2 linked regions of the Homo sapiens genome follow. The protein of the gene in region 2 interacts with the protein of the main gene of each other region in a biochemical or structural test. Each region holds a gene or a part of one and is shown on either strand. Other genes may lie near its edges.

Region 1 (3,810 bases), about 70 Mb from region 2:
CCTTGAACGGGTCAGAGGGTGACACCCTCAATTTTCAGAAACTATATGTGAGTCCGGAATATAAAAGGACCAAAGCTCATTAAACATGGGGCCACTTCCTGAACCTGTAAGGGTTGTCCACTGGGACAGTATGAAACTGTTTCATGAAAGCTGAGAGGGGTTGAAAAGAAGACAGAGGCCTCCTCAATCCTGTGTGTGTTTAAAAAGCGCTGTGCTGGGATCTCAGTTACACAGCCGGTGTTGGGGGTGGAAATAATATGCCCCACAGTATCCACACAGAGAAACAGGAGAGCTCTGTGGAGTGTGGAAGGGGTGATTGGGCAGAAAGAGAAGGGACATTTTGAGGAAGGACACTGGGGACCTACCTGGGCTGGGTGTCGGCCGGGACTGGGGAGCTGTGAGAAAGAGAAGAGAAGGTCAGATCAGGAACATTACACAGAAGTCGGCAAAACTGGAACGAGGAGGGAAAGAAATGAGCGAGTCTGACACTCAGTCCATCCTAGTTCCTATCACACAGGGAGGGACATTGCCATGCACATCCCCACAGAGATGCACCGTGTAAGGGGTCGAGGCAGATCCTGTCCACTATTGCCAGCTCTGAGGTGATCAAATTGTGTCTGCCCAGGGTAACCCGGTTGACCTAAACCAACCCACTCCCTTGCACATCTTAGGTGTTCCTGAGTCAGCAAGGCTGAGGAAGCCACTCCAGCCAAAATCCCTTGTGCGATCTTCAAGCCCCAATCACAGGCAATGACAAGGCCATGTCTGGCTGGCCTCATGGGGACTGCCCTCCCCTCACCAGACCTAGAACACAGGCAATGCTCAGCAGCGTTCTGAGAAGAGCTGAGGTCAAGAACTCCAACCCCACGCAACCCAGGCCTGATACAAACAGACACCCATTTGCACTCCTAACCCTTGAGCCTCTATTTCCAGACCTCCTCACTGGGTCTCAGCTGAGAACCCACTTTTAGCCAAGCATCTTTAGTTCAGAGTTCCTCGCAGTGAGGGGATCCCTCCCCTGCCTTGCTGTCTGTGCTGCATCCATTATACCCTCACACCGTGCTACTCAGCAGGGGAGAAATGGAGCCCTGGGGAGCCGGCACTTTTCTCTTCTGCCTCTTCCTTGCCTTGCCTCAGGAAGGGGAAAAACTCTGGGTTGTTTTAGTTTGATCCCCTGTCCTAAGTGACCACAGGAACACTAGGCAGTGAGTACATATGGATTCTTAGCAGAGAGCTGACAAGTCTTCAGAAACATAGAAAACATAGAAGCTTTGAGTGAGGAGATCAGAATGTAATTAGGAGTTTCTTTTGGAGCAAACTCCACCCCAAGAGAGTGAGCCCAAGTTCTTGAAGGCCCACCTGAGCAGATGACACCAGCGTCTTCACTATGGCCACAGTTGTGGGTGAGCCAGCCATTGTGGGGGCAGCTCCACAGGTAGGACTCATGTCCTGAGCAGCGCACATCATCCAGGACAATGGGTCCTGAGCCCTGGCCAAACTGGGCATTTCCTGGGGCTGACATGGCCCAGCCACAGCCCAGCTGCCTGCAGACCACATTGGCATCATTGGTGTCCCAGTAGTCATCACACACGGTGCCCCAGGAGCCTCGGTATAGGACCTCCACTCGGCCTCGACACCTGTCGCCTCCATTCACCAGCCTCAGGGCCAAACTGGATTCAGATCCTACAGGGGAACACAAGAACCCTTCATCCATCCCTATCATGAGGTCAAGAATCTAAGGTAAGTTCCACACTCAGGGTACTTCCTAATGAACTAAGTCACCTAGGCAGGCAGTCACCTTTGCATATGACCACAGACTAGGCTTCATCACCGTGAAAGTAGCACTGATAACCTACTCTGCCCAGGTCTATGGATGCTCAACTTTTGGGGAAGCACCTGTGACCCCAGTGGATGTGATGGGAATGGATGCCCCACTCCCCAGTTGGGTACACAGAGGATGGAGCTGCTCAGCTCCAGATGGCAGGCCCAGACCCCTCCCTTATTCAGGAGCATGGTCCTATCTGGGATCTGACTGGCAGAGTACCAGAGATGGCAGGGATGAGGTCCCCATAGGATTAGGGAGACCCCCAGGGCTTGTTCTGAGCCCATAGATAAGGATCTTTTCTGACCACTTGGAACAGGATCCCACAGGAGACAGGTCACCAGCACCCTCCACCCTCCAATATCACATCTAATTCTGGGTTTTCAGAGACTCCAGCTTCCTCCCTACCCAACCCACAGAAACATGAAAAAGCAAGGGGCCCACCTTGAGCCTCATCCTATCATGAGCCTAATGATTCCTAATGATCTTCTGGGAGGTCCTGCTCTTGTTCCCAGTGCCGAGCTGACTCTTGAGCCAACTGTTTATCACCTGCTGCCACCCTCCCACGCTTAGCCCACTTCCCCACCTCTCTTTATGGCAATCATAAGTGAACTATGAAATCCAAAGTGTATCCAGAGGTAGAAAGTGAGCCCCAGGGAGTGTTGAGAGGATTCTTTACCTTCTGTGGGTACAGGTGGTGATATCCTGACAGGCCAACTTTCTGTAAACAGCAACAAAGAGAAAGGATACAATTGGACTTGAAGGGAAAAAGGTAAAAAACAAGCGGTTCTCTGGACCAGGCAAGCACTGTGAAAACAATTCCACTCGAAGGTCTGGCCACTTGCTCCCCATGTGTCTGCCCAGGTCTCCTGCCCAGGGAACTCATTCAGGGACAAAGGACACCATGCAGGCCCTTCCACCTCTCTCTGAGAGAGGGATGACCTATTCGCAGTTAGGAAACCTTCACCACCCCCATCCCCCACCATCCACTGACGCGTGGACTGACTGGCTCATCTGACACCACTGCCAAGACTTGACACTTGCAGCTAAAATGTTCGGGATACTAGGGGTCCGCCCTGGGGGAAATCAGGTTTCCTGGTAAGTGAAGGCACCAGAAACATTTCTTAGCCTCTCTCTCCCCTCAGCATGGCCTCTGCCTCTTCTGAATGCAGACGTGGCCCTGCAGAATCTGGGGGTTTTTCAAGTAGTGAGAGATGGGGGTATCAAGCCTGTACTGACCTTGCCTTCAACAGAACATTAGAGGGTCTCACCCTCAATTCTCAGAAAGGTTGTGTCAGCCCTGAATATAAAGAGGCCAAAGCTCATTAAACAGCAGGCTTCTTTCTGAACTTCTAAGAGTTGTTCATTGGGACAGCATGGAACTGTGTGATGAAAGCTGAGATGGACTGAAGAGAAGGCAGAAGCTAAATCCCATGTGTGGTTAAGAAGCCCCATGCTAGGGTCTCAGTTACAGAGTTGGGGGTGAAATAATATGCCCCAGAGTATCTGCAGAGAAGCAGGAGGGCTCTGTGGAGTAGGGAAGGGGTAACTGAGCAGAAAGAGAAGGGGTATCCCGAGGAAGGATTCTGGGGACTCACCTGGCCTGAGTGTTGACTGAGGCTGGGCAGCTGTGAGAAAAAAATAGCAACATTAGACACCAAACACTCAGTGACTCCAAGTAGAGTTAAGGCTGAAGTGACTTGGGGTATCTACACCCTGAGCTGATGCCCATCACACGCCCACCAAGTGGGCCCTGCCAGTGCCCACCGTGAAGCCCTCGGTCCCTCAGGGACCCCACAGCCCCTGGCATTGCCTTCTCTGTGCCTGTGGCTCACTCTCCAGGGATATGAAGGTCACTTCGGTGCCTGGGACCGGCCACAACAACCTCGGTATCAACACCCAGGGAGCAGCAAACAGCCACCCTAAGCAATGAGTAGATGAAGACCCTAACTCTCCACGCTTGAGCTGCGATGAGTCTGAGGTTTGAC
Region 2 (4,513 bases):
CATTAAGACATGAGTCTATTACCCCACTCCTTGAATCTGGGCTGGCCTTGTGACTTGTTTTGACCAATACAGTCTGACAGAAATGATAATGTGCTCTGAGTCTTCAAGAAGCCTAAAGCCTATCTTATTTCTACTCTTGGGAATCCTGTAATCACTGCTATGTGAACAAGCCCTGTTGGATGATGAGAGATGTGGTTCAATTACCCTCATCACTCCAGCTAACATTCAGACAACAGCCAGACACATGAGTGAGACTATTGGCCATCAGTTGACCACAGACATGTGGGTAAGCCCAGCTTAAACCAGCAGAGAAATCACATGGCCGACCCACAGACTTGTGATTTAAATTGACGGCTATGTTTTTAAGCTATTAAGCTTTGGCTTGGTTTCTTATGAAGTAAAATATGACATACCATGGTTACATGCTTTTGTAAAAATAGGTATAATAAGCCCACACTTAGATGGCCTGTTTTCTCCCTCTAGGACCAGGGCCTCACATTAGACTGTTTCAGCTGATGGAGAATCCAGGCTCAGCTCTTACAGGGAGTGCCTGATGAGGGAGTTGTCTTGAAAAGTTTGTAAGTCTGTACTCAGGCACTTATAGGAATTCCCTAAGGCTCTAAGAATGAAGAGAGGGCTGAGGGCACTGGGTCAGAAAGCAAATTTGGGTATCTTCCTTTGAAGGAACAGGAGAAGGGGCACCTCTTACCAGATACTCAAGGTCTCAGAACCCTGGGTGAAGTCAGCTCAGACCTTGCTGGGGTCCTTACCCGGACTTTTTCCAGGGTCTCCTTTTTGGCCCTTTGGTCCTGGTGACCCAGAAGGCCCTGGATTTCCTGGAGGCCCCAACTTTCCAGGGGGGCCCTGTAAGCCTCTGAGCCCTTGGCCTGTTGGAAGACAAAGGAAATGTGACTTAATATCTATGTTCTTGCTCTCTCTCTTCAAGAGTTTGATGCCCAATCCCTTCTCAGGAGAAAGGAGACCTTGACCCAGGACTGACCTTTCTGAGCACTGCTCTCAATAACTGTATGGTGGGCACCTGAGAGCAATAACTTAAGAAATAAAGTTGCCACGTGGAGGTTGCTGCAGGGAGGGTGCAAAGTGAAAATTAACTGCATTTGTTTTTACCAGTAGTTGTTGTTCTCCTGTCCAGCCCACTGCTGCTGGATCTCCCTGTAAACAGATTCCCCCAGTAAAACCTATGTTTGTTTGCTGACTCCATCTCTTCTTTGGCCTCTTGAACCTGGTGCCATCCCTACTGAAGTGAATAGGGGTCTGACATGACAATGACCCAGAGAAGAAAAATTCATCCTGTGTCCCACGGGATGGCCTGACCTGTGGGCCACTTTCCTGGGCTGGCAAGACAACTATTAGTCACAAACTGCTGTGTGGAATTCTGAGATGCCAGAGAATGAGAGCTGAATCTCTGTTTTGAGTTACAGTATAGTTGAGAAAAATATACTCAAATAGGACATCAGTCTCCTCATATCCCCAGGCAGTTTCCTCTGGAAGGTAAAGAATTGCAGAGACAGAACAGCCCAACACGTACCTGGTTCCCCCTTTTCTCCCTTGGTGCCATCACGCCCATCTTTGCCTGGGAAGCCGTTGATGCCTGGAGAGCTACAGGCAATCACTGCAGGGCAGGTCTTTTGGGCATCCTCACAGGTCACAGTTTCTGAGTAAGACGCTGCCACCATACTCAGGAGAAGGAGAGGGAGTGATGGAAACAGGGACATGGTCCTCACCTTGGTGTGAGAAAACTCAGGGAAGGTTAATCTCAGTTAATGAACACATATTTACCGAGCATGCCCTCTGTCCTACAATCTGGGTGCAGGCTATATAGAAATAGATGACCCATCCCTGGCCTCTAGCTGGGGATTTGGAAAAGTAAACATTCCTTGTGACACTGCGTGACTAGTACTTTAACAAAGGTAGGCACTATGATGAGCAGTGGGGATCCTAAGGAGGGGTTCATCTGTGCCTAGACACCTGGCGTTGCTGCTGGAAGACTATAAACATGCTTTCGGTGGCAGTGAGAACAAATGGGACCGTGCATTGCCAGCTGGCTTATGCCTGTTAGCTTAGGGAATGAGAATGAGTGGAAACCCAGGTGTCTGTAGGAGCTTCCTCTTTCTCTCCATGTCCTCTTCGGGTCCATCTGCCACCTGAATCCCATCTTTGTATCTGGGCAGCTGATTCCCCTCCAGGACCTGTTAACTATCATTTACTCATTGGCAGGCCCTGAGCTGAAAGCTGGTGATCCAAAGAGGAAGGTCTCAACCTCAGATCAACCTCAACCTTAGTCACCAACCCAGCCCAGAATTAACTGGAGTTTGCTTCCCCTTGGTGTTTTAGACAGGCTTGCCTGGGTAAGCATTTTCTCTGGAAATTTCTTACTACGTTGGCCCTGGCAGAGTGCTAAATACCTCTCTACTTTCTGGCAGGAATTCCCCATGTTCTGTGAGTCAAAAACCACTGGCAATTAGAAAACTTGCCTTGAATCCTCCTCCCATTTCTCAGTATTAACCTTTCATTTGTTCTTCAGAGCTTTCTTCCAGCTATTGCCCCCTAAGAAACCTCAGCAGCCTAGCCCCATAGGTCTAAGCCTCCAAGTTTCCCTTTGAAAACAAAGACAGTCTCCACTGCAGATGAACAGATAATGGAGGAAAGTCACAGATGCTCCAGCACAAGCAGAAAAAGAGACATCCTCAACCTGATTTCTGCTTTCCATCCCACTCCCCCCACCCCTAGAAAGCCTCCTCCATGCCTCCAGGGTCATGTCAGCTCCCCAAACCCTTGATCCGGAAACCCAGATTTATTCACCAGAAATGACTTACTGGTGTTTCTGCAGAGCAGGGACTCAGTGACAAGGACGCTGGCCCTCTAGCCTGGGGCTCTGGCAGATGCCTCAGAGTGAGGGAGGAGGCTGGGCTCAGCAATGTAGGGCCCAATCAACCTTGTGAACAAGGATATCCTGGGCCTGGCCTTCAACTCCAGATTAATAAACAGCTCTTCTCAGAACTATGAGAAATTTAGGAGCCTCCAATACAGTGCTCGGCAGCTGTCTGCTTTAATACAGCACAATTCCTCTTTCAATTGCCATCCATTTTGGCAAATCTCATTGCTGAACTACCACAGCTAGGTTCACCTAGTTAGTCCTGTTGACATCCTTGTTTCCAACAGAAAAACAAAGATACTCACAAATGCATACACATGCTCATGCACACCAACTATACACACAGACACGTGCATGCACGCACACACCCATCCATGAAACCACATAGACCTCTTGCTGCCATTAATGCATTAAGGCCATTCCTGCCTCAGACTCTTCATTTGATGTCTCCATGCCTGGACCCCTTACGGGCATCGCCAGCTAGCTCTTTCTCTTCTATTCAAATATTCCAATTTCAGAGAAATCAGTACCTTGATCACTTATTCTAAAATAGTCCTACCTAGCAGTCTCTATCCTCTTAGCCTGAATTATTTTCTCTCATGTTACTTACACTTTATGATATTATAGTCATTGACTTTACTTTTCCAGTTTTTCATTGTGGTAAAATAGACATAAAATTTACCATTTTGACCATTATTATTAAGCACACAACTCAGTAGCATTAAGTACATTCACACGGTTGTGCTATCATCACCACATCATGGGATGATTTTCATCATCCCAAACTGAAACTCTCAACTCATTAAACTAGAATTCTCCATTTACCCCTACCCACAGCCACTGGTAACTTCTGTTTTACTTTCTGTCTCTCTGAATTCATCTATCCTAGGTACCTCATATATGTGAAATCATACAATAGCCCCCTTGTATCTGGCTTATTTCACTTAGCACAATGTCTTCAAATTTCATCCTCATAACAAGAATTGTAAACTGTGTTAAAGACTTTGGGTTTCCTTCCAGGGGGCACTAGAGGGACTGCAGTAGTGGAGAGGTGATCACATTTGAATTTTGCAAGGCTTGTTCTGGCTATGATGTTGAGGGGAACAGGACTGGAGAAAAGCAGATCTAAAAGGAAGTGCTTGCCATGATCTAAGCAGCAGAAGACAGTGGCCTGGGTCAGGGTAATGGCAGCTAGATTAAGAAGGTAGGCACACTTGAGAAACAGGAGGTATTGATTGCACTTGAGAATTAGCTAGAATAGTGAGTGATAATAAGAAGTTTTCATGGGCACACACATTTATGACTTGACTATCTAGGAGCCACTCAACTGAGATAAGAAGCAAAAGAACAGCACTTGGCACTATAAGATCATGGGTATCGTGTGTGTTAATGGCTTGAACCATCTTGCTGTGGTTAATGGGGACAATCTAGAAGGGATGGAAGAATACTTTTACGAACATAGTTCATTTGATTCTCAACTACATTACTGATATGGCTTTCAGAAAAATGCCATGTAGCTTGGGGTGTTGGGGAGCCCATCCTGAGAAGTTCAGAGGCTGCGGGGCCATGTGGTGGGGGTACTATGGAGGCCTCCAAACACCAAAAGAAATGTGAGTA

Evidence for each region.
Region 1: the proteins of MBL2 (region 2) and DMBT1 form a complex in vitro, tested with the Homo sapiens proteins (one study listed by IntAct).

The regions. Positions count from the first base shown.
Region 1 is NC_000010.11:122,577,451-122,581,260, reverse strand, and holds part of DMBT1 (scavenger receptor cysteine-rich domain-containing protein DMBT1 isoform e precursor), read right to left. Parts: intron 3,451-3,810; coding exon 3,421-3,450; intron 2,544-3,420; coding exon 2,502-2,543; intron 1,684-2,501; coding exon 1,360-1,683; intron 396-1,359; coding exon 366-395; intron 1-365.
Region 2 is NC_000010.11:52,769,900-52,774,412, forward strand, and holds the start of MBL2 (mannose-binding protein C precursor), read right to left. Parts: upstream 2,886-4,513; 5' UTR 2,838-2,885; intron 1,761-2,837; exon of another isoform or gene 1,746-1,760; 5' UTR 1,737-1,745; coding exon 1,550-1,736; intron 888-1,549; coding exon 771-887; intron 1-770. UniProt on the Homo sapiens protein: Calcium-dependent lectin involved in innate immune defense. Binds mannose, fucose and N-acetylglucosamine on different microorganisms and activates the lectin complement pathway.